Homo sapiens: one gene and its partner. The protein of the gene in region 1 interacts with the protein of each later gene in a biochemical or structural test. Each region holds a gene or a part of one and is shown in the gene's direction. Other genes may lie near its edges. The genes, in order: UTS2R and UTS2B.

Evidence for each region.
Region 2: the proteins of UTS2R (region 1) and UTS2B form a complex in vitro, tested with the Homo sapiens proteins (one study listed by BioGRID).

The regions. Positions count from the first base shown.
Region 1 is NC_000017.11:82,365,676-82,375,911, forward strand, and holds the start of UTS2R (urotensin-2 receptor), read left to right. Parts: upstream 1-6,089; 5' UTR 6,090-6,372; intron 6,373-6,922; 5' UTR 6,923-7,108; intron 7,109-8,567; 5' UTR 8,568-8,649; coding exon 8,650-9,819; 3' UTR 9,820-10,236. UniProt on the Homo sapiens protein: High affinity receptor for urotensin-2 and urotensin-2B. The activity of this receptor is mediated by a G-protein that activate a phosphatidylinositol-calcium second messenger system.
Region 2 is NC_000003.12:191,269,490-191,279,374, reverse strand, and holds part of UTS2B (urotensin-2B precursor), read left to right. Parts: intron 1-1,204; coding exon 1,205-1,303; intron 1,304-2,530; coding exon 2,531-2,568; intron 2,569-4,029; coding exon 4,030-4,123; intron 4,124-5,810; coding exon of another isoform or gene 5,811-5,875; exon of another isoform or gene 5,876-6,244; intron 6,245-9,885. UniProt on the Homo sapiens protein: Potent vasoconstrictor.

The DNA.
Region 1 (10,236 bases):
CCTCACTCTCCCTATGTCTGAGCTTTCACGAGCTTGGACACTTTAAGTCAGGGGAAGTGCTCGGAATTCCATGTTGTCTCCTGCCAGCTTAAGCCCTTTCATCCCCTGCAATTGCTCAGATGTCTGAGGCTCTCTGCTAATTAATAGGGCCACCACCAGCTGGAGACCCGTGCAGGTTCTAATTGGTTTGATTCATGTTACCATCTCTCCAGCTGTGTCTCATATCTGGAGGTGTTTGAGACCAAGACTGGGGAAATTGTGGTGCCTGAGGTCAAAAGTAAAGGAAAATACCAACAGCAGCATCAAGGGAAGTGTCTCCTGGAAGAGTAAAGTGAAATCACCAGCTGCAGAGGTGCTCTGGGAGAGGTGGGAGGCCCTGCAGGGGTGTCCCCCTGGGACCTCCTTCCAAAAGAAAGAGCCCTCAGCTCTGGGTAATGAAGTGGGCCCACGCTCCCTGGGCAGGATCCCAGGCAGCTGATGGCTGATGGCTGAGCTCTAGTTGGGGCTTTGAGGGCCTGGCCGTTTCTGCACGGCCCAGTCTTTGCTCCTCATGAGGTTCCCTAACTCCATCTGGGGTGCACTCAGCCTGAGCTGCCTCCACCCCTCACTTTTATTCCCTTATTTATTTTTATTTTTATTTTCTTTTTATAGAGACAGGGTCTCACTATGTTGCTCGGGCTGGCCTTGAACTCCTGGGCTCAAGCGATCCTCCCACCTCAGCCTCCCAAAGTGTTAGGATTACAGATATGAGCCACTGCGCTCGGCCACGTTCCCTTATTTTCATCAAGCATCTCTGCCCCAGTGTCTGCGGCAGGATGGGCCTCTGGTCTCTAAGCACCTGAGAGGTGGAGTGGGTTCTGAACAAAGCATCCTCTTCAAGTCTGAAAAACACAAACATCAGGCTGGATGGGCACCTGAAAAGAGCCCCATGAAACCAGCTCTGTCTGTGGAACCTCATTTTCTACAGAATTTAGTAATCCAATTGGAAAGTACTTCTTTCACAAAAATTATCATTGCAAAACATAATGAACCCATTAAGTGCAGAGCAAAGCTTCAAAAGTCACATTTGTGGAAAATGGGAGCTTTATGATTATGATTTATGATTTAATGGTCCATAAAGTGAATCATAGGCAGGCAGAGCCACTTTGCACTAAAGCGCTGGGATTACAGGTGTGAGCCACCGCGCCCGGCCTGAAATGTGAATTCTTACACAACAACAAAGAGCTTTCCAACTGTGTAATTTCACTCACCCTTCTCCAGAGACCTGGTGCTATTGTTGTCTTGGATATTAGTTGACACGTGTTATCATCATCATGCGCCACCAGAGCTATTGCTGCATAGTCCTCATCTTTTTAATTTACAAACATATTTACCTTCCTGGTGCACTTCATTTTTCCATGCACTTCCGAGTTTCTATCTGGGGTCATTTTCTGTCAGCAGAAGGAAAGCCTGAGGAGCTCCTTTAGTATTTTTTTGTGCTGTGACAAATGTTCTTAGCTTTGTCTGAAAGTATCTATATTTTATTGTACATAAATTGTTGGTTAAAATTCTTTATTTTGGTACTTTAAAGAGGTCATTCTCTTTCGGTTTCCATGGTTTTCTGAGGAGATCTAGTCATCTTTCCTATTGTTATTCCCTGAATGCATTGTCTTTTTTTTTTTTTTAATCTCAATAATTTTTACAGTTTCTGTTTACCTTTGGTTTTTGGAATTTTTTACTACAATGCGCTGGAGTTGTTTGCTTTTAGTTTTTTCCTGCTTGTGATTTACTAAGATTCTAATGTCTGTAAGTTGACATTGCTTATCAATTTTGAAAATTTCAGCCACTGCCTTTTCAGATATTGCTCCTGCCCCATTTTCCTCTGTTGTTGATCTGGGGACTCCAGTGACATGTACGTCAGATCATTTGATGGTGTGGTTCCACAGGCTTTTCTGTTTTTCATTCTTTTCTCTTTCTGTGTCTGGATAATTTCTATTGACCTACCTTTAAGTTAACTGATTCTTTCTTCTGCTGTGATTTCTGAATTTTAGATACTGTACTTTTAAAAGTTATAAAATGTCCATTTGACCCTTGTGAGAAAGAAACTCATCCGTCCAAATCCAAAGAACTGACTCAGGGACCTGGAGAACAGCGAAAGCGAGGCTTTTAATGACGGCAAGATCGGGTGTCTGGTGGGCAGGCACACCCAGCAGTTTCAACAAGCAATTTATCCCCTAGTGCACAGATCCCTCCCCCGGTTCCTCATAGGCTGAGTACTCTGGGGTCACAGTCTTCCCGCATGTCGCCTATTGGTTGTTGGGCAGGGGCTGTAGGGCACAGGTCCCTCCCCAGCTTCCTCATAGGCTGAGTACTAGGGGATCACAGTCTTCCTGCATGTCGCCTATTGGTTGTTGGGCAGGGGCTGCAGGGTGCAGGTCCCTCCCCAGGTTCCTCATAGGCTGAGTACTCTCGGGTCACAATCTTCCCGGATGTCGCCTATTGGTTGTTGGGCAGGTGCTGTAGGTGTTTTCTTCAGGGTTGTCCTGCTGCATTTTGTTGCAGCCCACAATGCATTGCAATCCTAGTTAGCTCAGGGGCTCTTTAAGTATTTGACTTATGACCTAAGTAGCTGGGCAGGCTGATAAGAATAGATCAAACCAGCTATTTTGCAGGCTAGTAAAATTTCATCTTAAACTTCTTTGATTTGGGTGAGGGCAACTAAGAGGGGGTTAAAAGGGAGTGGATGAGGCCGACAAGCAGGCATCCACTATCCAAGCTGGGGCCTAGTATATCCTGTTCTTCTGTAGTTTGCTGACCTAAGCCGATTCAAGGCACACTGTCTTGGAAATGGACCACTGTATACATTATTTCCTTCACCCTTTAAAAAATTTTTTTAGAAATAGAAATGGAGGGTCTCATTATGTGCCCAGGCTGGTCTCAAACTTCTAGACTCGAGTGATCATCCTGCCTCAGTTTTCAAAAGTACTGGGATTGGCCGGGTGCGGTGGCTCATGCCTGTAATCCTAGCACTTTGGGAGGCCGAGGTGGGCAGATCACGAGGTCAGGAGTTCAAGACCAGCCTGGCCAAGATAGTGAAAGCCCATCTCTACTAAAAATACAAAAATTAGGCTGAGAGCGGTGGTGGGCACCTGTAATCCCAGCACTTTGGGAGGCCGAGGCGGGCGGATCACGAGGTCAGGAGATCGAGACCATCCTGGCTAACACAGTGAAACCCCGTCTCTACTAAAAATACAAAAAATTAGCCAGGCACGGTGGTGGGCACCTGTAGTCCCAGCTACTCGGGAGGCTGAGGCAGGAGAATGGCATGAACCCGGGAGGCAGAGCTTGCAGTGAGCCGAGATTGCGCCACTGCACTCCAGCCTGGGCGACCAGCGAGACTCTGTCTCAAAAAAAAAAAAAAAAATACAAAAATTAGTTGGGTGTGGTGGTGGGCACCTGTAATCCCAGTCACTCGGGAGGCTGAGGCAGAGAATTGCTTGAACCTGGGAGGCGGAGGTTGCAGTGAGTCAAGATCACGCCACTGCACTCCAGCCTGGGCGACAGAGTGAGACTCCATCTCAAAAAAAAAAAAAAAAAAAAAAGTGCTGGGATTACAGGTGTTAGCCACAGTGCCCAGCCTGGGAATTTCTAATAAAAGAGTCAAATGGGGTTGGGCGTAGTGGCTGGGCAACATGGTGAAACTTGTCTCTACAAAAAATACAAAAATTAGCCAAGTGTAGTGTAGCGGTGCATGTCTGTAGTCCCAGCTACTCGGGAGGTAGGAGAATTGCTTGAGTGTAGGAAGTCAAAGAAAGCTGCGGTGAGCCATGATCACACCCCTGCACTCCAGCCTGGGCGAGCCTAGGCTAGACCTTAGAGCGAGACCCTGTCTCAAATAAAGAAAGAAATACATTCCCATTTTCTGGTGAAAATTTCCATCTTTTCATGCATGTTGCCCAGGTTCTTCTGCTTGCTTTACTATATTTGTAACAGTTTTTGTAAAACAGAAACTCCTGGTCTGCTAATTCCAATACTTGTGTCACATATGGACCTGCTTCTATCGGCTATTTTTCCCCCATCAATTATGGATCACATAAGATATGAAGCAGCAAGGAAACAATAATCAGATTATTATTTCCTTGCTGAAGCATTTTATACATAGCAACTGTCAAAGTCCAAATATACAGACAAATCTTTAAGTTTAATGTTTAATTTTAGGAAGAATTTCAATTCGGTATGTTCAAGAACAAAAGAAAATCGGGATTCTTTTGGAAAGAGAAACGTTATCTATTGCTTTGAAAGAAAGCCCGTTGGCACTGGTAGTTCGGGGGAGCTGGCAAGCTCAGGCGAGTGGCCTCAGTGGTAAAACCAGCACTGGAGGCCAGGCACGGTGGCTCACGCCTGTAATCCTAGCACTTTGGGAGGCTGAGGTGGGCAGATCACCTGAGCTCAGGAGTTCGAGACCTACCCGGCCAACATGATGAAACCCCGTCTACTACAAACACAAAAATTAGCTGGGTGTGGTGGCGGGTGCCTGTAATCCCAGCTACTTGGGAGGCTGAGGCAGGAGAATTGCTTGAGCCTGGGAGGTGGAGGTTGCAGTGAGCCGAGGTTGCAGTGAGCCGAGATCGCACCACTGCACTCCAGCCCGGGTGAAAGAGTGAGACCCCATCTCAAAAAAATAAATAAATAAATAATAAAAAAATAAAATAAAAAATAAAAAACCCGGTGTTCGTGTCAGGGCAGGTCGTTTCAGCAGCTACTCGGTGAACTGGCTGAGGTGACAGCAGATCGTTTCGGCAGCTGGCTTGCGGGAAATTTAATTCTTGGAGCAGGCATTCTGGGTCCTGAGTGCTTTTCCCCAGCCCTAGCCCCTAGACTCCAGCTTAGTAATCAGCTCTCACAGAACCATCACGTCGGAGGCAGCCTTCCACCCCCTTTCCTCCCGCGCACAGGCAGGATGAGCTGCTCCCCTTTCGGGTCGGAAGCTGCAGCTGTATTTGGTTTCAGTTCGGCTGTTTTCAGCTCACAGAGAATGAACTGTCTTATTGTGTGACCCTTGCTCCGTCCAGCGGACGCTCGGAGACCAGAGGGACTTTTCCCGCCCTCTCCAGCCCAGCCTCGCCTCCCCAGCACGTGGCAAACGTCCCACGGAGGGGACTGGTGGGCATCTGGGGCTCCCCCGGATCCAGCTGATTGCAGGAGCCTCTCGGCCATTCACACTTGGCCACCTCCTCTCCCCCAGCAGAACCCCTTCAGCTTTAGGGGCCGGTCCGCGGCCTCAGGCAGCAGATGAGCCCCGGGCGGAGTGGAGTGGGCGAGGCCAGCTCCTCGCTGGGGGCCCTTTAGACCCCGTGTTCACAGCTCTCCAGCTCTCCTCTAGTCTAATTTATTAATGTTCTGTGTCTTTTTCTTTCAGGGGTTCAGCATGAGTGAAGGCCCACATCCTACCTCCGAGCAGCAAGTGAAACCGAGTGGGGGCCAGCACCCAGCTCAGGGGCTCGAGGGTGAGGCTGTGGGGTCCTTCCTCCTACCCCGCGGGGCCCTGCAGCTCCCAGCGTCACTTCCGTGGATGTGGCCACCACGAGTCCCTGCCGAGGCCTGGAGAGGCTGCGTGGGCTTCTAAGAGCATCTGTGGGAGACCCGCAACAGGGGCGGGGTCAAGGCCCCCAAAGAGCCCGTCCCCGCCTGGGCGGGTGACTCCCTCCCTCCCTTACCTCCTTTCTATGACCCTCTCGGGGTTTAGGGGTGTTCCTGCCCCCCACCTGCGCGCGGGCGGGTCCAGGGCTTGGTGGACACGGAGAATCCCAGGCTCCGTGCCCTGCAAACACGGGCGTGAGGGGCGCAGGGGTGAACGCTGGAGGCGGAGAACCCAAGAGGGGCTGCGGGGTCAGCCTTGGGGCAGCCGGGCTGGAGGCAGCTTCGCTCCGCAGACGCAGACGCGAGACCCGCCTGGGACCCTCCGCCGACCCCGCTGCGGCCCCGCGACCCCCGCGTCTTCCCGGCGCCGCGCGGTCAGCGCCGCCCCCTAGACACCCGGCGCCGTCCCCTCCGCGCGCCTGCTGCCCGCTGGGGTTATTTTAATACCGGGCCCTGGCGCGGGGCGCGGCGCATTCCCAGCTGGCGGCGGGCAGGTGGCGGCGGCGCAGAGACCCGGCGCGGGGCGGGGGGCGCGGCTTTGGTGGCGGGACTGGCGGGCGCCCCTGCCGTGTGCTCTGGAAGCCGAGGCCACCGCGGAGCCCCTCGCGCCCCCTCTGCGCTGGGACAGGGGAGCGCGCCTCGGAAAGTTCCCCGCGGCCCCGCTGCGCGAGGAGTTTGGAGCCGCGAGCGGCTGCCCCCACGCGCGACCCCAGGCTCGGCGGGCAGGTCTGGCCGCTCAGTGACCGGAGGCAGGTGGGTCCTCGGTGGGTGACCGGGAGCGCGCGGGGACTGCCGGGTCTGTGCCCTTCGGGGCCCTCCGCAGGGCTGGGCCGGGGTTTCGCGGTGGGAACCCACCCTGGGCGAGGGGAGCGGGGTCCAGCGAGGCGGCTTCTCCCGTGCCGTGGAACTTTCGGCCCCTCCCCTTCCCCCCTAGCGACCCTGGAGCAATCCTAGCGGCCCGGCGGCCGCTGTCCCCCTGCCCGTGACTCGGGCTCGCGCACAACTGGGGAGCCCGGTGCACCCTCGGCTTCTGCGCCGTCCCCTGGGTGAGGGCTCTGGAAATGCCCTGGGTGGGGGCAGCAAGGGGGTGAGGGTCCCCTGGACAGATGGAGCTGGGAGCTGCTCGGCCTGGTGGGAAAGGGCGGACAGGGCACATTTCCAGGCCCTGGAAGGCCCCCAGCGCCCCCACCTGTTGACAACTCCCCACCCCAGCCAAGACTGCTCCCTGCGCAGCCATGAGTGTTCGGCCTAAATTCAGCGTGGCTCGTGGAATCAGGCAGCCTCCTGTGTCTTGTTTCTTCAGCCCACCACCGCGCTGTTTCATCCAGGCTGCTGACCCCAGCGGCGACTCCTTCACTGGCTTCATGTCACAGTTTGCCTGCCCCGTCCACTGGGGACATTTGAGCTGTTTCCAGCTTCTTAGGAGTCAAGCTGCCGTGAACTTTCGCACGCTTGTCATTTTCTGAACGTTGGCAGCCCTTTATCTAAGGTACTAACCTGAGAGTAGAATTGCCGGGTGAGAAGGTATAGGCGGTCAACTCTGCAAATCGTGCCAATGGCTTTCCAAAGCGGCGGCACAGTCCAGGTTCCCAGCAACAGGAAACGGCAGGGCCAGCTCCTCCACAGCCCCCACGCCTGTTGACAAGGATATCTGCCTTTTCACGCGTTCATCCTTGTCAGCACGCAGGGGCTCCTGTGGCCCTGACTGGCATTTCCCTGCTTGTTGGCTGCGTGGGTGTCCTTTTCAGGAAGTCCCCGGTCACGGTTTTGGTCTCTTTTTTTCAAATGGGTTGTTTGTCTTTTCCTTACTAATTTGCAGTTCTTCCCTATATTTTTCTTACCAGCTTTTTGTCTATGTTTCTTCTTTTTTTTTTTCTCTGAGACAAAGTCTCACTTTGTTGCCCAGGCTGGAGTGCGGTGGCACAATCTCAATCTTGGCTCACTGCAACTTCCACCTCCCGAGTTCAAACAATTCTCCTGCCTCAGCCTCCCGAGCAGCTGGGATTACAGGCGTGTGCCACCATGCCCGACTAATTTTTGTATTTTTAGTAGAGACGGGGTTTCGAGATGTTGGCCAGGCCGGTTTCGAACTCCTGACCTCAGGTGATCCACTTGCCTAGGCCTCCTAAAGTGCTGGGATTACAGGCGTGAGCCACTGCAACTGGCCTGATATATGTTTTCTGATGATCTCCTAGCCTGTGGCTTATGATTTCGCTCTCTTGGTAAAGTTCTTAATTTTAATGAAACCCATTTGCTTAGTCTTTTATTGAAAGTATTTTTTGTTCATTTTTAAGAAATATTTTCCCATCCAAGGTTATGCCAGTATTCCCGTTTTCTTCCAGAACCTCGACTGACTGATTTAACCTTTCACACTTAGGCCTGCAATCCATCTTGAATTCGTTTCCCTGTATGAGAAATGGAGATTGCAGAGGCCTTCCTCTCCTTACATGTTCTTCTATTTGGACTTTTAAAGTCAGTAGCTACTAGTTTTGCAATCTAAAGAAAACATTTTTTTAAATGTACAAGTCAAATAAATACGAGAAAGGACTCAGGAGTAAGTGGGCCCCACCTGTGCACAGACAAGAAAGTGAGGCCTGGGGGGGCGCAATGGGCAGAGCCCAGGACTCCCAGTTCTGTCCACTGCCGACCTCTGCCCCAGGGGCTGCCCTCCTGTGTTCCGGCTTTCAGAAAAGCCCAGTTCATCCCAGAGGCCATGGGACCTACAGTGAGGGGGGGGCAGGGGTCCTGCTGGGGCATGCGGGGGTCGGGGAGGGGGGTTGGGGCAGCTCGTCTGGTGGCTCTTGAGTCCTCCTGCAGAGCTGGTGGCTTCCAGAGAGTCCCGAGAGTTGGAGGGCACTGGGGAGCCCACGTGACTCTGTGGGAACGAGGCCATCACAGTGGCCTCCTGGGAGCGGAAGGTGTTGCCTGATTTGCTTCTTTCCCCACAGGCTGAGCTGGTTGCCCACAGGGGCCCCCGCCCCATCTCAGGGAGTGTCCACCCAGCCCTGAGCCCGTCGTGAGGGGTCAGAGATGGCGCTGACCCCCGAGTCCCCGAGCAGCTTCCCTGGGCTGGCCGCCACTGGCAGCTCTGTGCCGGAGCCGCCTGGCGGCCCCAACGCAACCCTCAACAGCTCCTGGGCCAGCCCGACCGAGCCCAGCTCCCTGGAGGACCTGGTGGCCACGGGCACCATTGGGACTCTGCTGTCGGCCATGGGCGTGGTGGGCGTGGTGGGCAACGCCTACACGCTGGTGGTCACCTGCCGCTCCCTGCGTGCGGTGGCCTCCATGTACGTCTACGTGGTCAACCTGGCGCTGGCCGACCTGCTGTACCTGCTCAGCATCCCCTTCATCGTGGCCACCTACGTCACCAAGGAGTGGCACTTCGGGGACGTGGGCTGCCGCGTGCTCTTCGGCCTGGACTTCCTGACCATGCACGCCAGCATCTTCACGCTGACCGTCATGAGCAGCGAGCGCTACGCTGCGGTGCTGCGGCCGCTGGACACCGTGCAGCGCCCCAAGGGCTACCGCAAGCTGCTGGCGCTGGGCACCTGGCTGCTGGCGCTGCTGCTGACGCTGCCCGTGATGCTGGCCATGCGGCTGGTGCGCCGGGGTCCCAAGAGCCTGTGCCTGCCCGCCTGGGGCCCGCGCGCCCACCGCGCCTACCTGACGCTGCTCTTCGCCACCAGCATCGCGGGGCCCGGGCTGCTCATCGGGCTGCTCTACGCGCGCCTGGCCCGCGCCTACCGCCGCTCGCAGCGCGCCTCCTTCAAGCGGGCCCGGCGGCCGGGGGCGCGCGCGCTGCGCCTGGTGCTGGGCATCGTGCTGCTCTTCTGGGCCTGCTTCCTGCCCTTCTGGCTGTGGCAGCTGCTCGCCCAGTACCACCAGGCCCCGCTGGCGCCGCGGACGGCGCGCATCGTCAACTACCTGACCACCTGCCTCACCTACGGCAACAGCTGCGCCAACCCCTTCCTCTACACGCTGCTCACCAGGAACTACCGCGACCACCTGCGCGGCCGCGTGCGGGGCCCGGGCAGCGGGGGAGGCCGGGGGCCCGTTCCCTCCCTGCAGCCCCGCGCCCGCTTCCAGCGCTGTTCGGGCCGCTCCCTGTCTTCCTGCAGCCCACAGCCCACTGACAGCCTCGTGCTGGCCCCAGCGGCCCCGGCCCGACCTGCGCCCGAGGGTCCCAGGGCCCCGGCGTGAGCACGCGGAGGGGCGGCTGGAGTCCAGGCGGGGACGCGCCCCAAAGCCCCAGCCACTCCCGGGAGCCCCCCCAACTCCCAAATCACAGGCCCTGCCCCTCCTCCGTCCCCTTCTGGAAAGATCCTGCTCGCTTCCCCTCAGCGCCCTTCCCGTGATGCCCAGAAGCGCCCACCCGCCTCCCTGAGGGTCTCCAGGAGGCTCCAGCGCAGTCCCGGCTTCTGGAGACCATGGCTTCGTCACAGAGGGCAGCAGGCGCCAGTGCCCGGCCCGTGTGGAGACCATGGCGCGGCTGCCGCCCCCGGGACCCTCCTCCTCTCAGCCAGCGGCCCTGTGACTCCTGTTCCTGCCTGTGTGGCTCCATCCCTTGTGGCTTTGCCACTGGAACAATCAACCCTGAGCTGGCTTCCGTGTCCTGCC
Region 2 (9,885 bases), on another chromosome or scaffold:
AATAATGTTTTTCTTTTAAACTAAACTATCTCTGAGAGTCTTTGTATAATTGATGCTGAGCAAAATTTGATATTCTGTTGGTATTTTAAATACTCAAAAGAAAATTTTACCAATAATTTTTATGTGTATGAAGCAAAGAAAATTGAAGAATTGAGCAACAATTAGGTATCTTTGGTTAATGTAGAAAACTGTGATCCTGTCACTTGCCCCAAATTATTCATTTTCTTCTTTTAATTAGCCATTTAAGTGTTTGAATTTATCAACTGACATTTTGTAGAGACAGGAAAGACAGGTAATTTTAAGAAATAGTCCAGTCAACTTATAAGCCATTTCTCTAGCTGAAACCACAGTACTCACTCCTAAACTTAAATCTCATTAATATTGCTTTTACTCACACTCTAACAGTTAATACAAAGAGGCAGGGAGAAGAAAAGATGATCTTACAGAAATTATGTGATAAAGGTTTGATTTTTCAGACCATCTCACTAAAGTTCATGGTAATATACTAATTATTATTTCAATTGAATTGTCAATGGATTTTTTTTGAATCTTCATGTTTTATAGCTTGCTAGAAGTCTCTTGTCTCAATTTCTACTCCAGAATGAAGATAATTACAGTACTGAGACATTTAGGGACCTGAGGAATGAATGGCTGTGAGGTAAATTGACAAAGATTAAAAGATGTTAATACGGAAGAGGTAGACACCATCCTAGCTTTGCCACAATCTTCCTTGGATGCTTTGAAGGAAATTCCCGGAACACAAACTGGCTTATATATATAAATGTGTATATAAATGTGTATATCAGATAAAATCACAAAATAGAATGCTATATTTTTATTTTGAAAACTACTTTTAGTTTATACTTATTTTAAATAAAATAGTAGAAAATTCCAGAAACACAGATTAAAAAGAAGAAAGTAAAATTCACCTCCAATTCTTCTACTCAGAAGTAATCACAGGTAAAACTTTAGGGTGCAACCTCCAGGTATATGCATATATTCTCTCTCTGTGTCTGTCTGACTGTCCATATTCATTCAATATATATTCAATAATTTCTTAAATTACCCATCCCTTCAGACTATACACTCTCTCTACATTTCTTTCGTTGTCAAATATACAAATTGATAGTAGCCTGTAAGACCAATTTAATTAGAAATATTTTCGGTGACTCAAATTGAAAATGGTGGTTTTTGATCATTATAGGAAATGAAATATTTCCAGATAAAAAATATACAAATCGTGAGGAACTATTGCTGGCTCTACTGAATAAAAATTTTGATTTCCAAAGACCTTTCAACACTGGTGAGTTAAACATAAAGTCAAGCTCTATTTATTAAAAAATAACAATTTATTTTGTCTTGAGACTTGCTTTTTCTAAATGTTAATTTATATTAAATGAAATAATTACTCTTTTATATGCTACACTAAAGATTTAAGTGATTTTTTTGTTTTATATTTATGTTAAATCCATGGAGTTATTAACAAATATTAATAGCCTATTTTGGTCAATTTGAGGGTCCTAATGGGATTGGTAAACATATAGTTAAAAAAAAAGGTTACCTTTATTCATATTTTCTTCTCATCTATGCAATTCTCCACTAGTACCACTAGTATTTTATTTTCTTAAATGTTTCAAAAGTATTATAGTTATAGGTTTCTTCTAGAAATTTCACAAATTAACTGCAGCTTTGTTGTAGTTAATTTAGCATTATTTTAATCAAATTCTTTCAATTTTAGGAAACAGTTGGAGTACAGATGATGAATGAAAAATTTAGGCTACACCAATTGAAATTATTTTTATTTGAAGAACAAGAGAATCTGACTTACAAATATCCATGAGATTGTCCTCCAAGAAATGACTGAGATTTTGTCAGAAATTTAACAAGTCTAGCTTAAGAGAAAATGTGACAATATGATACCGTGCTACTCTCCCATACAACATCTGAAGTAATCTAAACATGTCTGTATTCATAGAACAAAATGCTGGTTAAAAGAATAACTTAATAAATACTTTTAAAATTCAGGGTTTTTAAACTAAAAGTAATATATTCTTATTGAAAAATAAGTGAAATTTATAAAAACAAAAAATTTATACCCAAATTTTAAAACCTGGAGCAAGTTAGCCTTAGTATTTTGGAGAATTTTCTTCTCGATTGAATTATACATAGAATACATGGCTTGCTTCCCCCCGCCCACAACCCCATTTAATGTTGTTTTATGAGAATTTCCACATGCCAGCAAAAATAGTTTATTTCTAAATAATAGGTCATGCTAGAACTATGGTCTACGTTAGAAAAACTTTGTGCTAATTGTTGAAAATTACATATTTCAGATGACATAACTGATTGCATTTCAATACTATGGGCATTGAGAAATATACTGGAGGTTTTATATTAGGAATGGATGGGTGATGTCAAATCATATGAAAAAGACCTATGCTTTCTACGTAAGATCTTAAATGTGTGTACTGAAGCAAATTAAATATTACTTGCAATGTACGTTTTTTCATGTGACAAATGTGTCTTGCAGACCTAGCCTTACCTAACAAACTGGAAGAACTTAACCAGGTGAGAATGTGAAATACTTAAATGAGCAGTTTTAATAACAATTATAAGGAAATTTCTTCTTGACACAATGTTTTTTAAAATAAATTATTAATACTACAATGTAAAACTTTTATTCCTGCTAAACAAAGCGTGAAGCTGTTTTGTAGAAAAAGAAAAATCAAGTTATACTAACACAAAACAAAACAAAACTATGGCTGAAGTGATCATTCTTTATAATGTCTAGAAATCTGGATTCTAATTTTAGCTTTGCAATTACCAAACTGTGAAACCTGGGGCAAACAAATTCTCTAGACTGAAATCTCCTCATCTGTAGAATGGGAGGCTGTAAATAGATGGATGTTATTGTTTTTAAACAGTGGGAATCTTTTTTCCCCCAAATGTTATGTTTTCCCAGCAAATGAAACATGTAAAAGTCAAGCTGTTTGGCTTGAAGCAGCTGGTGTGAAGAGCCTAAAGTGCTGCCTTCTTGACGGGGACCCCTAGTAACACCCTTTTCTCCGTGCAATTCCATTATTCTGCAAACTGGCCCTTTGGGAGAGAGAACTATTCTCATCATTCTCTTCTGAGTAGCACCAACATGGAGATAAAGAGTGGTCCAGGCTGAACCCTACTTTTGTAGTTAGCTCTTCAGGGCCTAAGGCAATTAGTAACCTTATTAAAATTAAAAATTAAAATAAGTTGAATTCTGGATGGAAACCTTAAGGCCTCAAAATACTTTTTCCTTCCAGCTAGAAAAGACAAAAAATTCAGGAAATCCAAGTATTGACACAATAATTTGTAGCTCCTTGAAAAGACCTGCTCATTATAGGTGGCACAAAATGAAGTCCAAGTACACAGGCTGTATTTACATGTTCCCCATTAACACCCAGAGGTGACTTCCTTTGCCCAAAACCTGTTTCTTTCTGATCTTTTGTTGAGTCATGTACCTTTCCTAGTCAGCCCCTGAATGCATGCTCCCTGTTTTTCTTCTCTCTTTTTTGTTTTTTTCTTCCTTTGTTTCTATTTCCCCCTTTTTCTCTCTTCCTTTCTTTCATCCATTTTCTCTCTTTTTTTTTCTTTCTTTTTATCTTTCCTCTTCAACAGAGAGCAGCATGGTTTTTTTTTTGTTGTTTGTTTTTTGTTTTTTTGAGATGGAGTCTTGCTCTGTTGCCCTGGCAGAAGTACAGTGGTGCAATCTCGGCTCACTGCAGTCTCCACCTCCTGGGTTCACGCCATTCTCCTGCCTTAGCCTCCCGAGTAGCTGGGACTACAGGTGCCTGCTACCACGCCCAGCTAATTTTTTGTAGTTTTAGTAGAGGCGGAGTTTCACTGTGTTAGCCAGGATGGTCTTGATCGCCTGACCTCGTGACCTGCCTGCCTCGGCCTCCCGAAGTGCTGGGATTACAGGCATAAGCCACCGCGCCCGGTCAACAGCATGGTTTTATAGAAGACCAATTAATTATCATTTTACAATTTTATCAGCTGGAAAAGCTAAAAGAACAGCTAGTGGAGGAGAAGGATTCTGAGACGTCCTATGCTGTAGATGGTCTATTCTCTTCTCATCCTAGCAAACGAGGTAAGCTTTCATTTCAAGGTTTTAAGATTGACTTCCAAAAGATTATTTTTGCAGTAATTTCTGAGAGGAAGAAGATTCAGTTGGCATTTCTTAATCTTATGGTGGTGACCAATATAAAGGCTCATATTAAAAAAATATATTCCAATAAAAGTGTTACCATATAAATGTATTTGAGCTTTCTGGTGTTTACAACGGGGCAAGTTCACACTTCTCAGGTTTAAATAAAATAGGTCCTTATTGTATAAACTCTGGCTTACTCTTGCTATTTTGGCTTAAACACTGAAGCAGCAAAGACCACAAATAGAAATAATCCATTTTAAGTCAATTTAAAATTCCATAGAATCTATTCTGACATAAGGGGAAACTTCGTTGCTATAACACTTGTTCCAAGGTTCGATTCATAGCATTTAATTTTAGAAAGATTACTTTTTTGGATTATGCTTTTGGATAATTTTTCCTAGGAAATTATTGTTTCTTACTTTGTTTTTATTTTTGAAAAAAATGTATTCCTGTTTCTTTGTTCATGTAGTGATGAGAGATTTCCTAAGTCATATTTATTTTTACTTGTCCCCTATACCAGATTTGTCTTTAACTTCTGTAAAATCATATTTTAACAATATTATTGAGGGAAGAAGATGAACCAGTGTTAAGCCCTAAACATATACCAGACATTTTATATTTTAATGTCTCAAAATATAGTCATTAAGCATTCAGACTCTAGAGCTAGACTGCCTGGGTTCAAATTTTAACTTTGACTACCTACGCAACCTTGGAGAGTTATCTAATTTTCTCTGCCTCATTTTCTTTGCCTAAAAATGCGGATAATGATAATAATCTTCATGGGATTGTTGGGAGGAGTACATGAGTTAATTTAATTTAAAATAATTCCTAGTATGTAGTAAGTACTATGTAAGCTTAACTTAAAAAATTATTTTGATCATTATTACTACAATTATTTTCTACATGAATCCCATACAATAGCTATTAATATGACTTTTTTTATAGACGAGAAAACTGCATCTCAGAAGGGTTAAATTTAATGCTGAAAATAACCCAACTGCTAAGTGACTTAGCCAGTAAGGGTGAAGGATGAAGTGGCAGAAGATGAAGTGGAGGGTAGGAGGGAGGGAATTTAGTGGCTTTTTTTTTTTCTTTGAGACGGAGTTTCACTGCCCAGGCTGGAGTGCAATGGCACAATCTCGGCTCACTGCAACCTCTGTCTCTGGGGTTCAAGCAATTCTCCTGCCTCAGCCTCCCAAGTAGCTGGGATTACAGGCATGCACCATCACTCCCGGCTAAGTTTTGTATCTTTAGTGGAGATGGGTTTCACCATGTTGGTTAGGCTGGTCTGATTCTGGATATATTTCAAATAAAAGTCAACAAAATGTGCTGGAGAATTACACATGAAGTGTAAAAAATAGGCAGGTGTCAAAAATTACTCCAAGGATTTTGTTTTGAGCAACTAGGAACAAAGGACAGTTTCTGTTTATTGAGCCAAGGATAACTGGAGGAGAAGAAAGTACAAGAGAAAGGTTGAAATAGAGATTTGTTGGACCTTTCCTGAATCAGTATAGCTTAGGCTATTAGGTGTTAACAGTTGTAATCTAAATCTCAGAGGCATGGTGTAATAAAGTCGGGAATCGAGTCCAATGCTTGCAGCACAGCACAGCACCACTCTATTCTGTAGCCCTATCATCCAGAACGTTGATACAGCTTAACTGCCTCCAACATTGCCAAAACAGAAGAGGATAAAGGATACATCCCAGCTTTCAATTGCCTCAGTTCGGAAGGGACACACATCATTTCTACTGAAGTCCATTGGCCGGGATTAGTCACTGGGACTACCACCAACATATGGCAAGGCAGGTTGGTAAATGTAAGGAAGTACCTATAGTACTTGGTGAGCACTGCCTCTATCATAGTCTATCCTTTATCTCTTCTTAAAAACATAGACTATACTCAACTCATTCTCATTAGAGACAACCCCAAATCTCTTCTAGTGACTGCATGCAGCACAAATAACAGGCTTTCCAGGATATATTTACTAGTCTTCATCAGATATAATGTGGCCACTCCTTTTTTTTGAGACGGAGTCTCGCTCTGTAGCCCAGGCTGGAGTGCAGTGGTGCGATCTCGGCTCACTGCAACCTCTGCCTCCCAGGTTCCAGCTATTCACCTGCCTCAGCCTCCCGAGTAGATGGGACTACAGGTGGGCGCCACCAAGCCCAGCTAATTTTTTTGTATTTTTAGTAGAGATGGGGGTTTCATCATGTTGGCCAGGCTGGTTTCAAACTCCTGACCTCAGGTGATCCACCTGCCTTGAGCTCTCAAAGTGCTGGGATTACAGACATGAGGCACTGTGCCCTGCCCATTTTTTTTTTTTTTTTTTAGACGGAGTTTTGCTCTTGTTGCCTAGGCTGGAGTGCAATGGCACGCTACCTCGGCTCACTGCAACCTTCGCCTTTTGGGTTCAAGCTATTCTCCTGCCTCAGCCTCCCAAGTAGCTAGGATAACAGGCACGCACCACCACGCCCAGCTAATTTTTTGTATTTTCAGTAGAGACAGGTTTCACCATATTGGCCAGGCTGTTCTCGAACTCCTGACCTCAGGTGATCCACCCGCTTCTGCCTCCCAAAGTGCTGGGATTACAGGCATGAGCCACCATGCCCAGCCAAGCTACTCTTCATTCACAGACCTATTAACTGAAAAGATGAGTTATTATTCACCCCATACATATCCAACAATTAGCAAAGGAACAGGGAAAGGATAATCGCAATCAACAGCAAACTAAATATACTGCTTGCCAATTTACTCTTTTCCAGCCTTTCTTCTAGGAGCTCTAGGCACATGATCTGAATCCCAAGCTGTTGCAGATGCGAGTTTTAGCACTTATTTTGCCATTTAATAAAATAACTCTTAATTTTTCAAACCTATGATATCAGTTTCCTTGTCTGCCATTAATGAGTTGCTGATACTGTGTCAGATTTTAGGTATGTTTTACAGCAGCACCCTCACTTCACGTTATCAAACTGTATATTGGGATATGCTTAGCAAGCTGATAAAATAGCCTTTAAATCTCAGTGATGCAACTTTCTATAATTTTGACCGAGTTTACATGAGGTCTTACATATGTTGACCATTTTTCCTTCACTTCATGCATACACTATGTGGAACACGTGGTCTCCAATGTACCTATAGTAGGATAGGAAAGAGATGAAGCAGGTAAATATGCTTTTAACTGCCAGAGCTATGCACATGATCCCAATTTAACTTAATGGGGATGTGGGATCCCTAGGAAATACAGAGAAGTCTTAGGAATAGCTGAAGAGTTGTATTCCTACCACATATTTTGGGTTTGTTATGCCATATTTAATAAATCTTCCAGGAGTAAATTGAGTAGAAGATTAGATGTATGAATCTGAAGTTAGTGAATATGAATCTTATATCTTCAGTCAGCCCAGATTAGAGATATACATTTGGCAGTTATCAGCATTATAAATATTGTTTGGCATTGTGACGAGAGCATCTAAGGAGTGACTCCAAATATAAGGAAAAGATACCTAAAAACTGAGACTCAGATCATTCCAAGGGAAGAAACTGAGCAGATGAGGCAGAGTCAACAAAAGAGGCTGAGTAGGAGTAGGTACAAAGAAGGAGGCAAGAAAGCAACACCCACAAGTCAAGTAAAAAAACTGTTTCTGGGAAAAAGGAGTTTAAGTCTATCCAAAGCTATTGTTACCAAAACACCAGGGGTTCAGTCTAGGTCCTACAGCTCACTGCACAGAAAGCTGATCACTGAGACAAGTATTGCCAAGGAAGAAGGCTTTAATTGGGTGCTGCAGCTGAGGAGATGGAAGCTCAGTCTCAAATCCATCTCTCTAACTCACTAAAACTAGGGTTAATATAGCAGGGAAGAAATGTAACTACGTGTGAGAAAGGCAAGGAAGCAATCATAATGAATGAGTGGTCCAATATCTCATTGTCTGGATGGGGTGATCTGGTGAGTTTCAGTTCTTTGATACCTCTTTTTTTTTTTTTTTTTTTTTTTTTTGAGAGAGTCTCACTCTGTCACCAGGCTGGAGTGCAGTGGTGTGATCTCTGCTCACTGCAACCTCTGCCTCCCGTGTTCAAGCGATTCTTCTGCCTCAGCCACCCAAGTAGCTGGGACTACAGGCATGTGGCCACCACCCTCAGCTAATTTTTGTATTTTTAGTAGAGACAGGATTTCACCATGTTGGTCAGAATGGTCTCGATCTCCTGACCTCATGTCTGCCAGCCTCGTCCTCCCAAAGTGCTGGGATTACAGGCATGAGCCACCACAACTGGCCCTTTGACAGTTTTTTTTGGGAGGCCTAAAGGTCATTTCCTGAGGAAGAAACTCACCTAAAACAAATACAAGCTTTAAGCTTTAACAGCAGAAGGGTCAATTTCTGATTATCCAAAAACAACTCTCTATGGGTCTATGGGGCTGATTTCACTATGATAGATCCAGTAAAATGAGGACTGAGAACTTCCAGTTGAATTCAGCAGAGGAAAGGTCATTAATGGCCTTGCCAAGGATTGTTTGGTGAACTTTTTGTTAAAGAAAACATGACTATAGAACTGGAACCACTGACAATAGAAAATTCTCTTAAAGAATTTTGTGCTAAGGAATAGAAAAAAAATTGGTATATCAGCTAGAATGATTTGAAAGCATAAAAAAAAAACCTTTTTTGTTTATTTTTAAGAAAGTAGATATTACAACATGTTTGTAGGTCAGGTACCAGTGGCTCACACCTGCAATCCCACTACTTTGGGAGGCCAAGGCAGGAGAATCACTTGTGCCCAATCGTCTGAGACCAGCCTGGCCAATATAGGGAGGCTGTGTCTCTACAACAAATTTAAAAAATTAGCCTGGTGTGGTGACCCATGCTAGTAGTCCCAAGTACTCATGAGATTGAGACTGGAGGGTCCCTTGAGCCAAGGAGTTCGAGGTTGCAGTGAGCTATGGTTGTGCCACTGCACTCCAGCTTCGGTGACAAAGCTGAACATAATCCACGTTATACATGAAGTGCAGTGCTGTTGCCATAACTAGAGACTAACCACTGTGAATAACAATATATGAGGATGAAATAGACCCAGAAATCCAGCTTAAGACAGTAAAAACTTACGCTTACTGTGAAATATTGTACCTTTCTTTAATCTTTTAATATATTGTTGATAGACATCTGCTACAAATATAGCTGTCCAACTCCTAGCATCATGCTAAAAACGGAGAATACAAGAGTTAACAAGACAGCCATTAAGTGACACCAGAAAGCTGGTTGGGGTTTTACTTTATGTAAATGATGAATGGTGTACGCTATAAACATTGGGGAATTGGCTCTGCCACCAGTATGACTCATGACAGTTCCCTTTGACCACATCCAAAAAATTCTCCAAACTATATTCCATTGTATATTTAATTGAGCTGTTCATGTGGTATAAGTCTTGGCTAAGTGTAAGTTTATATTCTTCTGCCAGACTCAGATATTCAAAGACATCTGAAAAGACAGAGAGGTCAGTGATGATAACTTTCCAAAGCATACTATAAAAAGAAGATTGGCCAGGCATGGTGGCATGCACCTGTAGTCCCAGCTACTCAGGAGGCTGAGGTTAGAGAATCACTTGAAGCTGTAGCACTCTATGATCATGCCTGTGAATAGCCACTGTGGTCCAGGCTGGGGAATATAGTGAGAAGCCTCATCTTTTAAAAAGAAAAAAAAAAAAAACCTGAAAAAAAA